Linked DNA regions of Homo sapiens. The protein of the gene in region 3 interacts with the protein of the main gene of each other region in a pairwise test. Each region holds a gene or a part of one and is shown on either strand. Other genes may lie near its edges.

What was found.
Region 1: the proteins of EPM2A (region 3) and HMGXB4 interact in a two-hybrid assay, tested with the Homo sapiens proteins (one study listed by BioGRID).
Region 2: the proteins of EPM2A (region 3) and TDG interact in a two-hybrid assay, tested with the Homo sapiens proteins (one study listed by BioGRID).

Annotation. Positions count from the first base shown.
Region 1 is NC_000022.11:35,260,493-35,267,492, forward strand, and holds part of HMGXB4 (HMG domain-containing protein 4), read left to right. Parts: exon of another isoform or gene 1-1,033; intron 1,034-1,830; 5' UTR 1,831-1,898; coding exon 1,899-1,929; intron 1,930-2,585; coding exon 2,586-2,734; intron 2,735-3,303; coding exon 3,304-3,382; intron 3,383-3,489; exon of another isoform or gene 3,490-3,604; intron 3,605-4,155; coding exon 4,156-5,111; intron 5,112-7,000. UniProt on the Homo sapiens protein: Negatively regulates Wnt/beta-catenin signaling during development.
Region 2 is NC_000012.12:103,982,872-103,989,374, forward strand, and holds the end of TDG (G/T mismatch-specific thymine DNA glycosylase), read left to right. Parts: coding exon 1-63; intron 64-264; coding exon 265-347; intron 348-423; coding exon 424-518; intron 519-1,877; coding exon 1,878-2,049; intron 2,050-2,731; coding exon 2,732-2,857; intron 2,858-4,076; coding exon 4,077-4,219; 3' UTR 4,220-6,003; downstream 6,004-6,503. UniProt on the Homo sapiens protein: DNA glycosylase that plays a key role in active DNA demethylation: specifically recognizes and binds 5-formylcytosine (5fC) and 5-carboxylcytosine (5caC) in the context of CpG sites and mediates their excision through base-excision repair (BER) to install an unmethylated cytosine.
Region 3 is NC_000006.12:145,732,008-145,740,393, forward strand, and holds the start of EPM2A (laforin), read right to left. Parts: upstream 3,514-8,386; 5' UTR 3,492-3,513; coding exon 3,191-3,491; intron 2,914-3,190; exon of another isoform or gene 2,862-2,913; intron 1-2,861. UniProt on the Homo sapiens protein: Plays an important role in preventing glycogen hyperphosphorylation and the formation of insoluble aggregates, via its activity as glycogen phosphatase, and by promoting the ubiquitination of proteins involved in glycogen metabolism via its interaction with the E3 ubiquitin ligase NHLRC1/malin.

The DNA.
Region 1 (7,000 bases), on a different chromosome or scaffold from region 3:
TCCTTAAATGCTGGAACATGGAAAACTGGCTACATTATGTATCTTGCCTCCTCACATTTTTATCTGAGGCCTGACCTTATGTCCCCTTCGTTTCCTATGAAAAGGCCCTTCGAACAGGCAGTTCTCCAATTGAACTTTAAAACAATCCAGTTAATATAGTTTCATTACTCTAGCTTCTCTTACTTTGACCAAATCCATTCTTTATTTCACTTCTCAGAGAAGTGAAGAAATGCTTTTTTATGTTTCTTTTCTTAATCTAATAAATCATTCTTGGTAATGCTTCATTTTCCCATTTAGGCCTACCTGTATGTACATTGTATTTTATCTGATTGTGCAAATAAGTCTTTTTAATGTAACTCTTATGAAAGTCTCCCTTGTTAATCAAATTCATCTTTTCTTTCACAAAAGTTCCATGCTTCAGTATTGTCCACAGCTACCTGAAGGAATTAGTAATGTGTCATTTAAGTGTCCTTCAGTATTTCTAAATACCCTTATAATAATGAAGGTAAAATTAAATTTAAATAAATGATCAATTAGATTAACTTTGTAAGCATCTGACTTAATTGGATGAGAACATTTCCAAAATATTTAATATGTAATTTTAAAATTCCTGAAGGACTTATGAAATTGCTTGTTCTTAAAACATTTAAAGAACTTTACCTTGGCTGGGCGCGGTGGCTCACGCCTGTAATCCCAGCACTTTGGGAGGCCGAGGTGGGTGGATCACGAGGTCAAGAGTTCAAGACCAGCCTGGCCAAGATAGTGAAAACCCATCTCTACTAAAAATACAAAAATTAGCCAGGCTCGGTGGCAGGCGCCTGTAATCTCAGCTACTCGGGAGGCTGAGGCAGGAGAATCGCTTGAACCCGGGAGGCGGAGGTTGCAGTGAACCAATATCGTGCCACTGCACTCCAGCCTGGGCAACAGAGCAAGACTCTATCTCAAAAAAAAAAAAAAAAATCCTTTTACCTTACAGTGCATTTTATAGCATTGTCATCTTCAAAGTCAAAATGGACATATAAACTCAAATGCCAAAAAAGGTTGTAAAAATTCAATAAAAAATACAATATCTAGAACATTTAAATTATAGCAATTCTTATTAGTGAAGGTCTTAATAATCATAAAAGTTTTATGACCAGTGGACAAATGATAAATGTCTCCCTATTTTCACCTAGCCTTTAAGAAAGCCTTGGTGGTGGTGACAGCTGTCATATGGTCAACTGATGTAAGGAGTGTACCTGCTTTTACAGTTACATAAATTTGAACAAATTCATGTCGCCCCCCCCAAAAAATGCAAAAGACATTGTGCTCTAAAGATATTTAACATCCCTATACAGTTAATCATTTCTGTTTAAATTACAATGCAATAGATTTTACCGCTTCACCAATCCAGTTGGTAGGATTTTGTGGTCTTCAAATGTTTGATGTGATCTGTCTTCTCTGCATCTTGCTTTACTTGTGTATGTTGTAACCATGATTGAACCTATCCCTCTAACTTAATGTTGGTTTCTACCCTGTCTCAGTGTTGTCAGTCCTGTTGGCATTTTAGAAATTCTCATTAATTTTGAAAATATTTTTTGTATTGGAGGTATTTTATATACTTCCCCAAATGACAACTTTAATTCATGACTGAAATCTAATTAAGCCTAGTATACTTCCTGCAGTATCAACCCCACTGTATTTACAAAGAGAATGAGGAGGTGACAAGACACTTTTTATTTCTTGCTGCCCTTCCAGTCAGCCCTTGGATCACTGCGCATTTCCATCTGGAAGGTTGCTTCTCCTCAGTGATTTCGCATTACAGGAGGGTTTTCCTTCTTTGTTTCTCAGACCTGGTCCTGTAGACGGGAAGGAGCCTGGACACAGTGACACATTCTCAAAGGCCCTGCAGGACCACCATGGCTTATGATGACTCCGTGAAGAAAGAAGGTATGACCCCATAATCTGAGAAGCATTCCAAAGGGGGTATCCTCTTCAATCCTTGCAGCCCATGGATATAGAGACCAGGACTGGGCACCACAGCCTGGACTCCCAAGTGATGGTCCAGAGCACTGTTATGACACTCAGCCTCCACGCCATCCCCAGACTGGGCCCATGGAAACGAAAACCAGGACAGGGGTTCCAACACGAGAGTCTGAAATATGAGTCTCTTAGTTTATTGGGGTGATCCCCTGCAGCACTCTTGGTCCTTGCCAGCTCCAGTGTGCAGGAGTCTGGGGATAGGAATCACATCCTGGACTCCCACAGAGAGCAGCACAGCACATGAATCCTTATTCTTTTCAGCCTTTCGTCTGCAAGTCTGTGTCCTCCTACCAAATCACAACTCAGAAACCATATCTGAGGTTGCACATGGGGCCTTTGCATAGCATGGAAACATTGTTTCTTCAGGTTTGATTCTTGTATTTGCAGCTAGGTCATCAAGAAATATTCTGTTCCCCTGGGTCTAGCCCTGTATTTCAGTGGACTTGATTGAAACATTGTTTTAATTTGGAAATAGAGGAACTGTTGCATTACCTGCATGACGATTTGGTCATTACTTACTTGACTTTCTCATTTCCTTTCCCAAATAAACCTGTGCTTCTCAGATTGTTTTGATGGTGATCATACCTTTGAGGACATAGGACTTGCAGCTGGCCGAAGCCAACGAGAGAAAAAACGTTCTTACAAAGATTTTTTAAGGGAAGAGGAAGAAATTGCTGCTCAGGTCAGGAATTCTTCCAAGAAGAAGTTGAAGGTAAGTCCTGAAAATTTAAATTAGGAAAGTCTTAAACTACTCATTTTTTTTTGGTGATGCAGAGTTTTTTTTTGTTTTTTTTTTTTTTCTCTCATGGCCCAGGCTTGAATGCAATGGCACAATCTCTGCTCACTGCAACCTTCGACTCCCAGGTTCAAGCGTTTCTCTTGCCTCAGCCTCCCGAGTAGCTGGAATTACAGGCGCGGGCCACCACGCCTGGCCAATTTTTGTATTTTATCAGAGACAGGGTTTCACCATGTTGGCCAGGCAGGTCTCAAACTCCTGACCTCAAATGATTCACCTGCCTCCGCCTCCCAAAGTGCTGGGATTACAGGCCTGGGCCACTGCGCCAGGAAAGTCTTAAACTACTTCTTACCATATTTCCTAATATTTGAAGAAGGAAGTATTTTTTAATAACTTGAGAAAAGAAAAATAAAACGTTATGCACATCTATTTTTATTATTTCTTGTGCTTTGTTTCCCAAAATCAAAAATCATCAAAGACAAGAGTGGTTACAAACTGCATTTGCCTCATCATCTTATTATTGGTCAATTCTTCTTTAATTATAGGATAGTGAACTTTACTTCTTGGGGACGGACACACACAAGAAGAAGAGGAAGCACTCCTCTGATGATTACTACTATGGAGGTGAGGATGGGAATGGGCAACAGGTGGGATAAACACATCGCTGGTTCTTGGAGTCGGGGTAGGGGAAAGGGATCCAGATGTTGCTGACTCAGTGGCCTATTTAACAGGACAGTGGTTCTTGTTCTGAGTGCCGATAAACCAGTGTGAAGGAGGAGAGAGGTGGAGGGCTGGTATTTTGGAGGATTCAGCATAGAAGAACAGTCTGCATTTGTGATACACCAGGTACCAGGTTCCTTCTCCCCCCAATCATCCACTTATCTTGTGCCCATTGTTATCTAGCATCCCTTTTGCCATACGTAGTCCTCTGGCCTGCACCTGTGGGTCACTTCTCAACCAGTATATATCCACTCACAGAACCAGTTTTCTTAGCTATGTTATGCACATAGCTGATGAGACTCAACTTTCACCAGAATGGGTTTGTCCTGAACACAGAAACAAATGATACTCTGTCTGCAATCTGAATTGTTAACTTCCCATAATCCCACAGCTATAGTCAGTTCTTCTGGGTATGTGCTCTTTGGTTGCTTCTGAAGACTCAATGAAGAGAAACAACTTTAGTGGCAAGAACTGTGTCCAGGGTCAGAGGCAGACTCTACCAAGCCAAGAAGCACAAGGGCATCATTTCTCAATGTTAGGAATCAGTTAAAGGGTCTCCCTTCAAATCATTCCTGTTAGCCTCTTTCTCATGTTAGCTAGGTGCTTTTGATGAGAGAGGAAACTTGTTAGAAGTTGCTTCCCATCATATTGACAGTACTTCTCTTGATTATTTCTAGATATTTCGTCTTTGGAATCGTCACAGAAGAAAAAGAAAAAGTCCAGCCCACAGTCTACTGATACAGCTATGGACCTGTTGAAAGCTATCACTTCCCCACTGGCAGCAGGCTCCAAGCCCTCCAAAAAGACTGGGGAGAAATCCTCTGGCTCTTCAAGCCATTCGGAGAGTAAAAAGGAGCACCACAGGAAGAAAGTCAGTGGAAGCAGTGGGGAACTACCCCTAGAGGATGGTGGCTCCCACAAATCGAAAAAAATGAAACCTCTCTATGTGAACACAGAGACACTGACCCTTCGGGAGCCTGATGGTTTAAAAATGAAACTTATTCTGTCACCAAAGGAGAAGGGAAGCAGCTCTGTTGATGAGGAGTCTTTTCAATATCCCTCCCAACAAGCGACTGTGAAAAAATCCTCAAAGAAATCAGCTCGGGATGAGCAGGGTGCTTTACTCCTAGGACATGAGTTACAGAGCTTTCTGAAAACAGCCCGGAAAAAGCACAAGTCATCCTCAGACGCACATTCATCTCCTGGCCCTGAAGGCTGTGGGTCTGACGCCTCCCAGTTCGCAGAGTCCCACAGTGCTAACCTTGATCTTTCAGGGCTTGAACCTATTCTGGTAGAATCAGACTCATCCTCTGGTGGGGAACTAGAGGCTGGGGAGTTAGTGATAGATGATTCTTACCGAGAAATCAAGAAGAAAAAGAAGTCAAAGAAGAGCAAAAAGAAGAAAGACAAGGAGAAGCATAAAGAGAAGCGACACTCCAAGTCCAAGAGAAGTTTAGGACTTTCTGCCGTGCCAGTGGGAGAGGTCACAGTGACATCTGGCCCTCCTCCCAGCATCCCATACGCTGGAGCAGCAGCACCTCCCCTGCCACTTCCTGGCCTCCACACAGATGGGCATAGTGAAAAAAAAAAGAAAAAAGAAGAGAAGGACAAAGAGAGAGAGAGAGGAGAAAAGGTAAAGCATCTTTTAAGTGTGGTGGGGGTAAGAGATTAAGCAGGTTCTTCCTGGGTAGTCAGTGGACTTTTAAGTTAAGCAGTTGAGGTAAACCACTGGGAATTAAGCATGTTTGGGGGATATGTTGGAATGATATAAAGTATAAAATATTACCAGTAGCCCAGTCTGTCTGATATAGAAGCAATCTTTTTTTTTTTTTTTGAGATGGAGTCTCGCTCTGTCGCCCAGGCTGGAGTGCAGTGGTGCAGTCTGGGCTCACTGCAACCTCCTCCTCCCAGGTTCAAGCCTCACCCTCCCAAGTAGCTGAAATTACAGGCACCCGCCACCACACCCGACTAATTTTTTTTTTTTTTTTTTGTATTTTTAATAGAGACGAGGTTTCACCATGTTGGCCAGGCTGGTCTCAAACTCCTGACCTCAAGTGATCCACCCACCTCAGCCTCCCAAAGTGCTAGGATTACAGGCATGAGCCACCATGCCCGGCCTAGGGTTTCTTAATAGAGTTATTCTCCCATTGTGCCAGGAATAGGTTTAGTTACACTGTGGCTTTTTCCAGCTAGTTCTTAGAATTCACAGAAGGAGCTAAACCCAATTTCTTTCACTTAGCATCACTGTCTGCTTAGGGCAGTTGGGAGATGTCAAAAGGTGTTCTTTGAGTTCATTTTTAAAAACAGACTATCAAAATTGGTAGAACAATGAGCAGTCAAGTTAACAGAATAGCTAATGACTTTCCACCAGCTGGTGTTGGCTACTTTCTGGTATTCTTTTTAGTGTCGAATATATGTTCTTTTACTGTCTGAGTGCTTGCTGTATGCCAAGCTCAATGCTGTAGATAGTACCAGGAAGTAAAAACACAAGCAGGACATAGTTGTTGACTTTAGGGAGCTCACTGTTGATTAGGGAGATAGGAATGATAAATCAGTCACCTTGGTTTGATTTCTTTCCTCATAACAGTTTCTGGCAGTGAACTTTAGGGTCTCATAACTATGTCATTAAAAGTTTCTTTTTTTATTTATAGTTCTGCAAAATGCAATGTCAGATAAAATCTGGAAGAAAAGCGACTAAGAACGAGAAAATCAAATGTATTAAGAATCTGGGGCTGGGTGTGGTGGCTCATGCCTGTAATCCCAGCACTTTGGGAGGCTGAGGCAGGTGGATCCCTTGAGCCCAAGAGTTCGGGACCGGCCTGGGCAACATAGCGAAACCCAGTCTCTACAAAAAAATACAAAAATTTGCCTGGTGTGGGGGTGCACATCTATAGTCCCAGCTACTCAGGAGATTGAGGTGAGAGGATTGCTTAAGCCCAAGAGGTGGAGGCTACAGTGAGCTATAATCTTGCCACTGCAACTTCAGCCTGGACAGCAGAGTGAGGCTCCCTGTCTCAAAAGAAAAAAGAAAAGAATCTAGGAATGGGAATTTAGTTTGATCTCTGAGGTGGAAGTTATTTCTCCACTATAAAGGGTGCCTTTTAAGAAAGTCTGCTTATATCTATCTGTTTATATCTATCTGTAGATCTATATCTGTTTATCAGTATGTGTGTGTGTATATATAATATATATAAAATAATATATTATATATATATACACACACACATCTGTTTATCTCAAAAAAACCACAAAGCTGTACCTCTGAGCCAGGAATCAGTGTGAACATAAAGACCTGGATATTCCAATACTAAGTCAGGTTTTATTCAGTTGTTTATTTGGAAAATTGCTTTATGAAATAAACACTATGTGTTCTTTATAAGATTCTGTTTATCCTAAGAATTTCCAGTCTAGTGACGTGATAATGCCATGGACTAATCATCCAGTGCTGAATGTCGGAGCACAGGGTCAGGGAAAGCTTGAAGAAGGAGAAGGTTTCAGTGGAAGTGGACGCATGGAGGCAGA
Region 2 (6,503 bases), on a different chromosome or scaffold from region 3:
GTATGGTATTGGATTTACCAACATGGTGGAAAGGACCACGCCCGGCAGCAAAGATCTCTCCAGGTAAGTACACAGCATTTGCTTTTATGGGTTGGAACCTTGAGTATGCTGGTGCCCCAAATATTCTAGGAACATCATATGTATCTAGTTCAAGCTGAGCTCAACAAATGTACAATATGCTCTTTCATTGAAAGCTGTCTGAATTTAGCATATTATAAATATTGTCATATTTATATTTTTGACTACTTTTTAATTCAATTTTAGTAAAGAATTTCGTGAAGGAGGACGTATTCTAGTACAGAAATTACAGAAATATCAGCCACGAATAGCAGTGTTTAATGGAAAATGTAAGATTTACTTTTAAATTTTTTTTTTCTTTGCTAACATTATGGGCAATGTAAATATGTTTGTATTTCATTTTAGGTATTTATGAAATTTTTAGTAAAGAAGTTTTTGGAGTAAAGGTTAAGAACTTGGAATTTGGGCTTCAGCCCCATAAGATTCCAGACACAGAAACTGTAAGTCCCTAAAATTGAATTTGTAAATCAGCTAAATGTGAATTTTTTTCTAGATAATTTCCTTATTTGTCCTATCCATTGTGATTTATACCATGCAAAACAATTACACTGTATTTTGTTGAATAATACCTATACATCAGCTTTAACTAATAGTTGTAAATTAATTCAAATACTATTAGGGTTTATTAGAAAGAAAAACATTTGTCAGCTAAATGTCTTGATGTTGTTATTCAGTGAAAATATTGAGAGGAACTGGCTCATATACTACATTCAGAATACATTTAATGGCATGTAGTTGTCAAATTCAAATGGTTTAGCCCTCGTACTGTTGTGAAACAAACATGGAAACACAGACATGATCCTGATTAGGAAAACCAGTTGCCCCATTTATATATCTTAGCTCAACTTCATTTTAGAGCCATATAAATAATACAACCCAGACAAGCCTCCAGCCAACCTAACTGGCATTCAATACTGTTGTCTTATACACAAAGTCATCATGAAATAACAGTGTTTTTCAAATTGTCCTCTCTACAGAGCTTCTGCAGGCATTTGGTTCCAATTTTGCTTCTTAGTTTTAGGTTTTATTTACAACTTTTAAAGAACAACACAGTGCACAGATTTACATGTTGTATATACAACATCTTAACTGATGGAGAAGCTAATTTGCTGCCAGGTTTTTGTGGAAACCTAAAAATGTTTCTGCCACCTAAATATATTTAAATTTCTCCTTTAAAATTGTTTTTGTTCATAATTTCTTATAAATATGCAATTGATGAGTTTTATTATAGCATTGGTTTTTGCTTAAATAAAGGCCCACCTTTGTCTGCTTGGTTAAAATGGTACAAATTCACTACCTGTAGTGAATTGTAGAGAAATTCCTGTAGAGTACTGTGTCATTCTCTGTTACATGCCATTTGGAGGCCGGGCGTGGTGGCTCATGCCTATAATCCCAGCACTTTGGGAGGCCGAGGCAGGCGGATCACCTGAGGTTAGGAGTTCGAGACCAGCCTGGCCAACATGGTGAAACCCCATCTCCACTAAAAAATACAAAAATTAGCCAGGCATGGTGGCATGCGCTGTAATCCCAGCTACGTAGGAGGCTGAGGCAGAAGAATCGCTTGAACCCAGGAGGCAGCTCATTAGGCGGAGGCTCATTATTTTTCACTTCCTGACTTGGTAATAAGTCAGTATTACAAATTCAACCTTAAAAGCAACTACTTTTATTGATTTTTACATATATTTATATGTAGTTAAGTATCAAGTTATTAACCCAAATAAAGACAAATATTCTAATCTCAATGAGTGAATTCAATAGAATTATAAGATTTCTGAAATTATAAAATGTTGTGATTCTAGCTCTGCTATGTTATGCCATCATCCAGTGCAAGATGTGCTCAGTTTCCTCGAGCCCAAGACAAAGTTCATTACTACATAAAACTGAAGGACTTAAGAGATCAGTTGAAAGGCATTGAACGAAATATGGACGTTCAAGAGGTGCAATATACATTTGACCTACAGCTTGCCCAAGGTATGTTACTGTCCTCATTCCTTTTATTCATTTTGTGTGTGTATATATACACATATATACTTACATATATATACACATATACATATATACATATACACATATACATATGTGTGCACATATATGCACACGTGTATATATACATGTGTATATATACATATATACACATAAGTATGTATGTCTATATACATATATGTGTGTATACACTTGTGTGCGTATACATATGTGTGTGTCTATATATAGACACATACACACACACACACACACACACACACACACACACACACACACATTACAGAAAGTATCTTATGGATTTAAAAGCAGGAAAAAAGAAAACAATTATATTCGCAGCCAGAGTGCTCTGATAATGAATATTAGTCACTGTTAAAATCTCCTTTTACCAAGGTCTTCCCTCTACTCTGGCACTTCTGCAGATAATTCACCTGCAGAGTGCCAGAGCAGAGGGATGTAAGAAATATTGTACCCTACGTAAAGTTGAATGTAAGCGGTTTTTACAGTTCTTATGTGTTTATTTAGTACATGCTATAAGTTTAAAAGATTAATAGAGATGTATCTCAGTGTATATGAATATTCAAGAAAAAGAATTGTTCATGATTTCTGAATAAAGCTACTTTTAAAATTGTTGTACAAAATCAGATTTAAATCCTTTTTACCTTCCTCACAGAGGATGCAAAGAAGATGGCTGTTAAGGAAGAAAAATATGATCCAGGTTATGAGGCAGCATATGGTGGTGCTTACGGAGAAAATCCATGCAGCAGTGAACCTTGTGGCTTCTCTTCAAATGGGCTAAGTATGGTTCCCTCCACATGTGTATTCCTTTCAAAGACGGTTTGGTCAGGATTGGGGGGAAAATTTTAATAGAAGGAGAGTAAATTATTGAAGAATGGGAATGATAATATGAAATTTTATTTAGTGACTAATAGTGAAAAATTGATGGTTATTTCACGTTGAATTACACAGACTTTTACAGTACATTTTCTTTTTTGTTTGTTTGTTTTTGAGACAGATTCTCGCTGTGTCACCCAGGCTAGAGTGCAGTGGCTCGATCTTGGCTCACTGCAAGCTCCCCCTCCTGGGTTCACACCATTCTCCTGCCTCAGCCTCCCGAGTAGCTGGGACTACAGGCATCCGCCACGATGCCTGGCTAATTTTTTTTGTATTTTTAATAGAGACAGGGTTTCACCGTGTTAGCCAGGTTGGTCTCGATCTCCTGACCTCGTGATCTGCCCACCTTGGCCTCCAAAAGTGCTGGGATTACAGGCATGAGCCACCGCACCCGGCCTACAGTGCATTTTCTTTAAGTCATGAACTCTAGGCCATCCTAGTTGCATTTTCCTCCTTTAATAACAAATGAGTCCTGTATCTGAAGAACAGAAACTTAACAGTTGTATTCCGGAAGCTTGCTTAACTATTTTAATAATAATTCTCCTTCACTAGACTGTTAAAATCTCCTACTTTGATCATTTAAAACTTCCAGGCCGGGCATGGTGGTTCACGCCTGTAATCCCAGCAGTTTGAGAGGCTGAGGTGGGTGGATCATTTGAGGTCAGGAGTTCGAGACCAGCCTGGCCAACATGGTGAAACCCCATCTCTACTAAAATATACAAAAATTAGCATGGTGGCAGGTATAATCCTAGCTACTTGGGAGGCTGAGGCAGGAGTATCATTATATATAATATATATGCCTCTCCTCGATCCCGGGAGGCAGAGGCTGTAGTGAGCCGAAATCACACCACTGGACTCCAGCCTGGGTGACAGAATGAGACACCGTCTCAAAAAGAAAAAAAAAAACTTCAAATAAGCTGATACGGTGGCTCACACCTGTAATCCCAGTGCTTTGAGAGGCTAGGATGGGAGGATCACTCAAGCCCAGGAGTTTGAGGCTGCAAAGAGCTGTGATCATGCCACTGCATTCCAGCCTGGGCGATAGAGTAAGACCCAGTCTCTACTTTAAAAAAAGCAAATATTTCTAAATGGCATAAACTAACTTTGTTTTTCTTTTCTGGCAGTTGAGAGCGTGGAGTTAAGAGGAGAATCAGCTTTCAGTGGCATTCCTAATGGGCAGTGGATGACCCAGTCATTTACAGACCAAATTCCTTCCTTTAGTAATCACTGTGGAACACAAGAACAGGAAGAAGAAAGCCATGCTTAAGAATGGTGCTTCTCAGCTCTGCTTAAATGCTGCAGTTTTAATGCAGTTGTCAACAAGTAGAACCTCAGTTTGCTAACTGAAGTGTTTTATTAGTATTTTACTCTAGTGGTGTAATTGTAATGTAGAACAGTTGTGTGGTAGTGTGAACCGTATGAACCTAAGTAGTTTGGAAGAAAAAGTAGGGTTTTTGTATACTAGCTTTTGTATTTGAATTAATTATCATTCCAGCTTTTTATATACTATATTTCATTTATGAAGAAATTGATTTTCTTTTGGGAGTCACTTTTAATCTGTAATTTTAAAATACAAGTCTGAATATTTATAGTTGATTCTTAACTGCATAAACCTAGATATACCATTATCCCTTTTATACCTAAGAAGGGCATGCTAATAATTACCACTGTCAAAGAGGCAAAGGTGTTGATTTTTGTATATGAAGTTAAGCCTCAGTGGAGTCTCATTTGTTAGTTTTTAGTGGTAACTAAGGGTAAACTCAGGGTTCCCTGAGCTATATGCACACTCAGACCTCTTTGCTTTACCAGTGGTGTTTGTGAGTTGCTCAGTAGTAAAAACTGGCCCTTACCTGACAGAGCCCTGGCTTTGACCTGCTCAGCCCTGTGTGTTAATCCTCTAGTAGCCAATTAACTACTCTGGGGTGGCAGGTTCCAGAGAATGCAGTAGACCTTTTGCCACTCATCTGTGTTTTACTTGAGACATGTAAATATGATAGGGAAGGAACTGAATTTCTCCATTCATATTTATAACCATTCTAGTTTTATCTTCCTTGGCTTTAAGAGTGTGCCATGGAAAGTGATAAGAAATGAACTTCTAGGCTAAGCAAAAAGATGCTGGAGATATTTGATACTCTCATTTAAACTGGTGCTTTATGTACATGAGATGTACTAAAATAAGTAATATAGAATTTTTCTTGCTAGGTAAATCCAGTAAGCCAATAATTTTAAAGATTCTTTATCTGCATCATTGCTGTTTGTTACTATAAATTAAATGAACCTCATGGAAAGGTTGAGGTGTATACCTTTGTGATTTTCTAATGAGTTTTCCATGGTGCTACAAATAATCCAGACTACCAGGTCTGGTAGATATTAAAGCTGGGTACTAAGAAATGTTATTTGCATCCTCTCAGTTACTCCTGAATATTCTGATTTCATACGTACCCAGGGAGCATGCTGTTTTGTCAATCAATATAAAATATTTATGAGGTCTCCCCCACCCCCAGGAGGTTATATGATTGCTCTTCTCTTTATAATAAGAGAAACAAATTCTTATTGTGAATCTTAACATGCTTTTTAGCTGTGGCTATGATGGATTTTATTTTTTCCTAGGTCAAGCTGTGTAAAAGTCATTTATGTTATTTAAATGATGTACTGTACTGCTGTTTACATGGACGTTTTGTGCGGGTGCTTTGAAGTGCCTTGCATCAGGGATTAGGAGCAATTAAATTATTTTTTCACGGGACTGTGTAAAGCATGTAACTAGGTATTGCTTTGGTATATAACTATTGTAGCTTTACAAGAGATTGTTTTATTTGAATGGGGAAAATACCCTTTAAATTATGACGGACATCCACTAGAGATGGGTTTGAGGATTTTCCAAGCGTGTAATAATGATGTTTTTCCTAACATGACAGATGAGTAGTAAATGTTGATATATCCTATACATGACAGTGTGAGACTTTTTCATTAAATAATATTGAAAGATTTTAAAATTCATTTGAAAGTCTGATGGCTTTTACAATAAAAGATATTAAGAATTGTTATCCTTAACTTACGGGCTTTTTCTATAGCAAGACTGAGTGGTATTCTTTCCCCTTTAAACCTGAGGTCAGTTTACCTTCTATTATATTTAACATGTAGAATAGTAACATGATAAAAATCATAAAAATGATGAATATTTTATTTTTCAGACGTCCATATTTTAAATGTAATAGTTTTATAAAAGAAAAGGTTGGCAACCTGTTAAGGAGATCTTCATGTGAAAAATACATGTAGAAGTTTTAAAAATTTGTGGATATAATTGTCATTCAGAATTAAGCAGGTTGATTGCTGTTATCTAGATGGGTCTCTTCCTTTATGTTTTTCAGTCACATAATCTTGATTTCCATAGTTATCACATGTACTTAAAGAAGTTAATCAATGCCTATATGGTCCAAGGTATAATTTGCACACAGTAGTTTTTGGTTTTTATATTGTGGATCATATGTATCAAAGGTAATATTCATAAAGAACAATGTTATAGTTGGCTACAAAGGGACAATTCCACATTT
Region 3 (8,386 bases):
TGGGAAAGCCAAATAAAGACATTTTAGGAATTTGAGGGCTCAGATATTTTCTCTCTGATTTTACCATTTCTTGAAAATTTTCCAAAGAAATGATTAAGGTTTTTAAGAAAGAGGAAGATATACCATTTAAAACAGTGCAACTAACATAGGAGTTCGATTGTTTTCTTTAAAGTCTCAGGTTTACAGCTAAGACTTGTGTGTGTGTGTGTGTGTGTGTGTGTGTGTGTGTGCGCGCCAAAGTAAGGAAGGGAGAGGAATGTGTAAGTAAGCTATTTTTCTTATCCTCTCATATAGGGGTAACTTCCTGCATAATAGGATTATGAGAATGAACTTTCTATGTAACAGAAAGTCAACGGTCAATATTTTATATAAAACTGATACATATATCAGAAACACACACACACATATATATATATATATATATATCAGAAAGCCATATATTAGTGAAAAGTGAAAATTAGAACAGGAATCCTAATTCTTCAAGGAAAAAATTCTATTTCCAAGAAATAAGCAATATGCATTCATCAAGTAGTGCAATTAAGCTAGGACATTGTGAGAACTGGTTTAACTCTTCTGTTAAAAAAATTAATAACAAATTTTTAAATAAGTTGTAGAAGAACATTACAGTCCAAATATGAAGTAAAACAAATTCTAGTACCATTTTAAGTAAAATCTGAACATGATTTATAGTGAAGAAAAGAGAATTTTTCCTTGCAGTGGTACAGTTTTCATGTCACAAAATTTTATTTCCTTGTTTACGAGTCTAATTGCACAACGTGGTTTCCCAATAATCATAGTAAAAAATAATAACTAGCCCTTATTTAACATTTACCATATGTCCTCTTGTAAGTTCTTAATATATATCCTATTCTACAAAATACAGTTCATTTATTAGGCAGCTTGGTCCTTTCATTGTGAGCTGAGGTGACACGCCTCAAATCCCACACTGGTTGGTGAGCCCAGGCAATCTGGCTCCAGAATCCTTGCTCTTAAACACTTGGCTACCCTGCTTCTCATAAAGCTCTCTGTTAATTTACGATGTTTAGAATCAGTCTATTTACCTTAAACAAGAAGGCACTGTAACAATTAGAAAATAGAATATAAATTATATAAAACTTGATAATGTAAAAGTCATAATAAACCAAAGTGAGACAGGAAGAAATTGTAATATTTTTCTTATCCTCTCTTATAGGAGTAACTTCCTAGAAAGTCAACAGTCAATTTTTAATACAAAACTGAAAATAATTCCTGCTTGGATAGTAAAGAAAAATATTTATCAAAAAAACTGAAAATAATAGTAAAAAAAAATCAGCAGGGAAGACAGAGAGTGAACTTGAGCTAAATTCCTCATATTTCATAACAAGTGTGATGGTTAATTTTATGAGCATCCAGTAGGTGTCAATATCTATTGCCTAATTTTAACTTTTAAAATTATATATAACTTATATGGTAACTATTAGAAAAATTAAAAACAAAAGTTTGTGGTACCTTAAGAAATAGCAACATAAGCAAACTATTAACGGCATAGGGAGGACTATCAGAAAAGCTAAATAACTAGGGAAAGGGAAGATCTTTGTTTCACACCATTTCCATTTTTATTACAATTATCAGATATTATTTTAAAAAATAATTCTACAATACTATGAAAAATAGTAATACTCTGTAAAGAAAGGATAAACTGAAGAGGGTATCTTTCAATTCTGTCATGGTAAAATAACAGACCAATAAATGCTACCAGACCATAAGCCCAGTGAGGTAGAGAAGGAGAACAAGGATAATATATAAACACATTCCACTCTAATCTTCTTTACTGATTCTTTGTTTCTACATCATTACAGGCTAAATGGCCCATTTTTTTTTTCATATAAACTTCTAAAGAGACATTCATTTCATTGACTTCAACTATTGAGTCACACCCACTCCAGTCTACAACCTTGCACATTTCCTTTAAAGAAAGGAGCTGTCTCAATTCAGACACTGTTGGCGGGAGCCGACATTAGATAATCACCCTTTTAGGGCATAATTTAGCAGTCTTTAATGAAGTGTTAAAAAAAATGACTGCATTTTGACCTAATAATTTCACTTCTTTGAATCCACTCTGCAGAAACACTCCCGAATGTTCAAAGATATCTGTAAAAGGAATTTCAATTAAGCCACTACTGTTTACGACAGAGGAAAACTGAAAAGAACCTAAATGCACATTGGTAGATGCAGAATAATTTGTTGCCATTTAAAATATACATCTACATGTAAAATACATATCTACGTGTAGTGACAGTGAAAGATGTCCCTAACATATTGTTAGGCAAGAAAAGCAAAAATTCAGAATTACTATACAATTTTTGTAAAAAAAAAAAGTATATGCATATATCACATACATAAATGTGTACAAGCAGTGTGCTTAAGATGTGTGGAGGAAACACTGTAAGTTTTCACTATGTACATTTCTTTATTATTATTTTACAACCAGCATGTATTGTTTTAGTATTTTAAGAAATCAGGTCATGTCTCAATTGTCATATATCTGGGATTAAAAAAGAAAAAAAAATCCAAAAAGGGAAATATTCAACGTTTTTCCATTAGTTCATTCTCAATATCTATGAAAAAAATCTAAGTAGCACATTGCTGTCTAGGATTAGCGAAAACGCTAGTTTCGTTGGTTGGATCGTTTTGGGTTTTTTTTAGTGAATTAGAGCAGGAAAATGAGGACACAAAACCCAACCAAGGCGGAGTTGGGCTGTTGAAGCCATCAGCGGCGCGCGGCCGGGCAGCCAAGGGACCCGCGAAGGGGGGGACTCGGAGGTCGAGGGGCACTCGGAGGGCGAAGGGAGCCCCGGGCGGGAGACGAAGGGCACTGGCCCGTGACGCAGGCGCGGTTGGAAAGAAGCTGAGGACTGGATGTGCGGAAACCAGGTCAGAGGGGCAGGCAACAGAGTGGGCGGGAAGGCGGCCGGGAGCGCTATACGGGTCTAGGGAATCAGTAGGAAGCCGGAGGCGCGGCTGGCGGCGACAGCGTGGCCGGCAGAGCAGGGTCAGCCCAGGTCGCCCGGGGAGTGCGCAGGGACGCGGGCAAAAAGCCCGGGACGCGCGCCGCCGGGGCCTGCGGGGCCTGCCCGAGGCCGAGGCCCCGGTTGGGGGTGCGGGCCGGAGCTCCCGCTCTGCGCCGGGGGCAGGCGTCTGCTGGCAATACCTTCCCAGGAGAGCTCTCCTCCCGGCTCCCGCTTCAGGAACTTGTACCAGAACGTGTCCACGCGGCCCGGCTCCGCCCCGTCCTGCGCCGCCTCCTCGGCCGCCAGCTCCACCTCCCCGAGCCACAGGCCCGGCTCCTGCAGGGCCAGGGCCCCGTCGCCCGCCGCGGTGCCGGCCGGCCTCAGGCGGACGGCACCGCGCGGCTCCCAACGCCCCAGCTCGGGCCGCGACCCCACCACCAGCAGCTCCGGCCGGGCGCCGGCCACGGCGGGTGGCACCACCACCCCAAAGCGGAAGCGCATGGCGGGCGGCGGCGGCGCGAATACCCGGGCCCGGAGTCCCCGCGGCCGGCAGGCGCGGCCCGAGCACTAGGCGGCCGCAGCGATTGGGCGGTGGTGTGGGAGCCCCGGGCACCGGGGAGAACACGTGCTGTTCTGCGCCTTCTTTGGGATGCATCACGCGGCTCCCGAGCCCAGACTTCGTCCAGGCCGGCGGGAAGGGGTCAGCGGAGCCGCTAGCTGCCTCTTTGTGCCCCGCAACCCCGCGGGCGGTTGATTTCCACCTGTGGGCGCTGGGGACACGCGACCGGAAGAAATGGAAGAGAAAACGGGGTTCGGGGAGGGAGGAAAACTTCTAAGCCAGGCGATCGTCCAGTTCTCTCTCCAAGAGACTGGAAATTAACTTTATGAGGATCATAAGGAAGGGAATGACCTCTAGACAGCCGCCTTCTAATTGTGAAACGGGGGAAGATCTTGGACCTGGTCTCTGGAGCGCTCCCTATCTTAACCAAGTCACTTACTCTAGCAGGTCTCAGGTTCTTTGTCTGTAAAATGAGGGTGTAAAATAATGATCTTTCTAGACCCTACGAGCTCTGAAGGATCTCTGATTGGTGGAGATCACCCAAGACCCGGAGCTGATGCAAAACATTACCTACCATTCCCTTGTCTGAAAAGCCACATCAACTTTCTTTTTTCAAAAACTATATTTTTAGTATGTGTAAAGTAAGTTTGGAGTAAATACTTTCAAGTCCTTTTCAAGGTCAAAACAAAAACTAATTCTGTGACTACAAATGTATGCTTTTTTTTTTTTTTTTGAGACAGAGTCTCGCTCTGTCCAAATGTATGCATTTTTAATGGAGTAAATTAAAAAAAAAAACCTTTGTTTAAAATTTACTTTCAGCAAAAGTCAGCATTATTTTTTCAACTTAAAACCTTTTTGGGTTTTAAGTTGAAACAGGTTTTTTAGCTGTCTGGCCCAAATCCAAAATACGTATATCTTGGTGGGGAACTTCAATTTGTCTCTGCCATAAGACAAACGAATGTCCTGATACTTTTTGATTCTTTAACAAAATTATCCTTGTATTCTTAGGTTTATATATTCACTAACATTTAACATAACACAAATCTGTTACGTGAATTAAAGACACACAAAGGCATTTTTACCAGTGTTTGGAAGTTTGTGAATAGTAAAGGGGAACAGGCCAAAATTTCATGCGTTGAGGATATAAGTAAAACAGAAAGTGCAAAAATGTAAACTACACAAACTCAATCTCTTGTGGAACAATTAGAAAACTAATAATACATTTTACTCTTGAATGTTGATATTCCACTCGAAGTTTGGTTGGTTGCTAAGCTTAAGGATAAACACTATGAAAAATGTGAAGACAGAAGGGCTGGCCAAACACAGCTGATTCGGCAGCAAATCACACATTAAATCACAGTGGCATGTGAGTCGGTTTATTCAAATTGCTGTTAAAAGATATTCTTAGAGTAAGTTTAGGAAAATAAGAGTCATTTGGCGATGCAGAGAGGATTTTGTCTACAGTGGAATCCAGACTCCGGTGAAAGTTCTCATTCCTTCAGGACCTGGGAGCTAACAGCTCCGGACTTTCTTGTGCTCCACTGTGCTGCCTATGTTGTGTGCTTCCCAAATGGCATTATTCCCACCAGCTCTTCCAGAGTGAGTTCTGCCCATTCTGTAGAAGAAACAGTAGCGGAAAAATTAAACAATATCTTTGCTCAACGGACATTGTTTCCTTTACTCTTCTTTCATCATAAAGAGGTTGAAATAATTTTAACCATTGGAAGAAGTAACCCTCTTAAGCCCCTAAACAAAATTTGTAATAGCTTATTTTATGGCAAGGATTTAAATAAGGTATAAATTGGATAGCTGCACTGTGTAGTAAGTAAAATGCAACTGGAAAGGAGAACAAGACCAAAATAGGGCTTAAGGGACATATATCAAGGCCTTGATCATATTTTGACGGTCAGTCATTTGGATGTATAAGTATTAACCATGATAATATCCATTGAGCCTATATTATGGGCCAGGCACATGGTTTTCGTACTCATATTATCTTATTTAAGTCTCTCACCAATCCTATAAGGTAACTACAATTGTTACCCCCATTTTTAGATGTGAGGATACTTCAGCACAAAAGGGTCCAATGAACAGCCCACAGCAAGGAAGGGGCAGAGCCAGGGGCTAAAAGGGGTGCATTCAGCTTATAGATATAGATACAGATATAAATTCTGATAAGGAAAATCTGTTTCAGAATGCATATAAATTCTAGCATATTTAAATGTTATTCTCTGTCAGCTCTTAATTTAAAAAAAATAAATTCCTATCATTATTTCTTGTAACTAACTTCATCCTTAGGAATTAAAGAACAGATGAATCATGAGTGGCAGTCTAAACGGATCAATGACTCTGTAAAGACACATATATCTTAGCATTTGGAGAGGATTTGGCTGCAGGTTCTTGGAAATTATAATTTGTATGCCTTTTTATACCTATGTGTTGGCAATAGAAACAGATTTAAGAAGCCAAGGTGAAGAATTTTACCAGTTTTTAAATTGTGTTAGTTTTAGATCTTTTTCCTTGTTGGGTCCTCCATATGAGATTTCTTTTTACATTTCGAAGAATCATGGTATTTATTAAAAGGGATTATTTATGAAATCCATTTGAGGTCAGATTCTTGATGCTATGGGGACAAGCTAAATTTAGAGCAAGAATCAGTCCAGTAGAGTAACATAATTATGATAATAATTTTTAAAAGACCAAAACAATTTGTTGTCATTGAATTTCATTTTTATAATGCTATCTTATATATAACTATAAACTTTCCTGAGGAATGGGTGATAAATTCAAACATAGAGTTTCAAGATCCAATTCAAATGTAAATTCTTTTGAAGCCCCCTCAGGGAAAGCTATTAGTTTGATCTTGGGAGATTTATGCTTTCTGAAGCAATCTTTCACTAGTCAGTGAGTTATCATAAATCTTTCCTTGTAGTATTTTATATGTGTATACACATTCACTGATGTAAACCATATTTTATCCACATAGTTCAGGGACTGTTATAAGTATTAGTTTATTACTCAACAAAACATATCTAAAAGTTAAATGTGTCACATATACTATGCAATTTTGTAGCAATAAAAAAAAATCCCTTTCAGACAGAGTTTGAATACAGCTTAAAAACTTTTGCATGTTACAGCTAACTTTTTTCTGGATTGAAAAAGTATGGCTTAGGCTACCTCATAAGTTGGGGTTCCCATGGGTTAGAAACCCCTTTGGAAATCTAGAACAATAGAAGGATATAAACTAAACTAAGGCTTTGCCCCAAAATCCCACTACATTCCTCAACTGTTGTAAAAATTCATGTCTTTTTTTGATACATATAAAAATCTCGTCTCCAGTCGATTCCAATAATTCCAGTTCCCATCCATACCACCGTAGAGAAGTTTTGCATCTTCAGTGCATCACCACCGGCCTGTTTTGTCATTCTTCTTTCTTTACAATTTACATTATTAAAATATTAATTTTTAGGAATGCTCCAAGCATGAAATTACAATGAAACGTATGCCCTTTCAGAAGACATTGACCTGCCCTTTCCGTCACACACCTCCATCATTGTAAAATCTACACCTCCTCCCCTTCACTTCTCCTTTGAAAACCTCTACTCAACAGGGTCATTCAAGCCTGGGTTTTCCTAGGCAATGACCTAAAATGACTTTGCCTGGGGAAAGTAGAGTGCCAAGCCAGGTGGCTGGACCTCAAGATTAGAGACACTGGTTTAGAGCTTCCTTCAGCTGTAAAAAGATCCTCCTAGGTCTGAGTAACTTGAATGGCAGGCTGGTTAATACCCTTCCCAAACAGAGTGGAGAGCATGATAACTCAACCCTTAGGAATAAAAGAATGGTGGCTGGAAGGGAAGATTTGAAACTCCCAAAGGAACTTTCAAAGACTTTGAGAAAAAGGAAAGAGGCTAGCTGAAAGCAGAGCTTACTCATTTACACTTAAATAGAGAATGGAGACTGTTGGCAGGGCAAACCTGATAAGTACTTTTTAAAAAAAATTATTCTACTTTAAGTTCTGGGATACATGTGCAGAACTTGCAGGTTTGTTACATAGGTATACACCTGCCATAGTGGTTTGCTGCACCCATCAACCCATCATCTACATTACATATTTCTCCTAATGCTATCCCTCCTCTAGCCCCCACCCCCCGATAGGCCCTGGTGTGTGATGTTCCTCCTTGTGTCCATGTGTTCTCATTGTTCAGCTCCCACTTATGAGTGAGAACATGTAGTGTTTGGTTTTCTGTTCCTGTGTTAGTTTGCTGAGAATGATGGTTTCCAGCTTCATCCATATCTCTGCAAAGGACATGAGCTCATCCTTTTTTACGGCTGCATAGTATTCCATGGTGTATACGTGTCACATTTTCTTTATCCATTCTATCACTGATGGGCATTTGGGTTGGTTCCAAGTCTTTGCTGCCGTGAATGGTGCTGCAATAAACATACGTGTGTATGTGTCTTTATAGTAGAATGATGTAAAATCCTGTGGGTATATACCCAGTAATGGGATTGCTGGGTCAGAGGGTGTTTCTGGTTCTAGATCCTTAAGGAATCACCACACTGTCTTCCATAATAGTTGAACTAATTTACATTCCCACCAACAGTGTAAAAACATTCCTATTTCTTCACATCATCTCCAGCATCTGTTGTTTCCTGACTTTTTCATGATCGCCATTCTAACTGGCATGAGATGGCATCTCATTGTGGTTTTGATTTGCATTTCTCTAATGACCAGTGATGACAAGCTTTCTTCATATGTTTGTTGGCAGCATAAATGTCTTCTTTTGAGAAGTGTCTGTTCATATCCTTCACCCACTTTTTGATGGGGTTGTTTGGT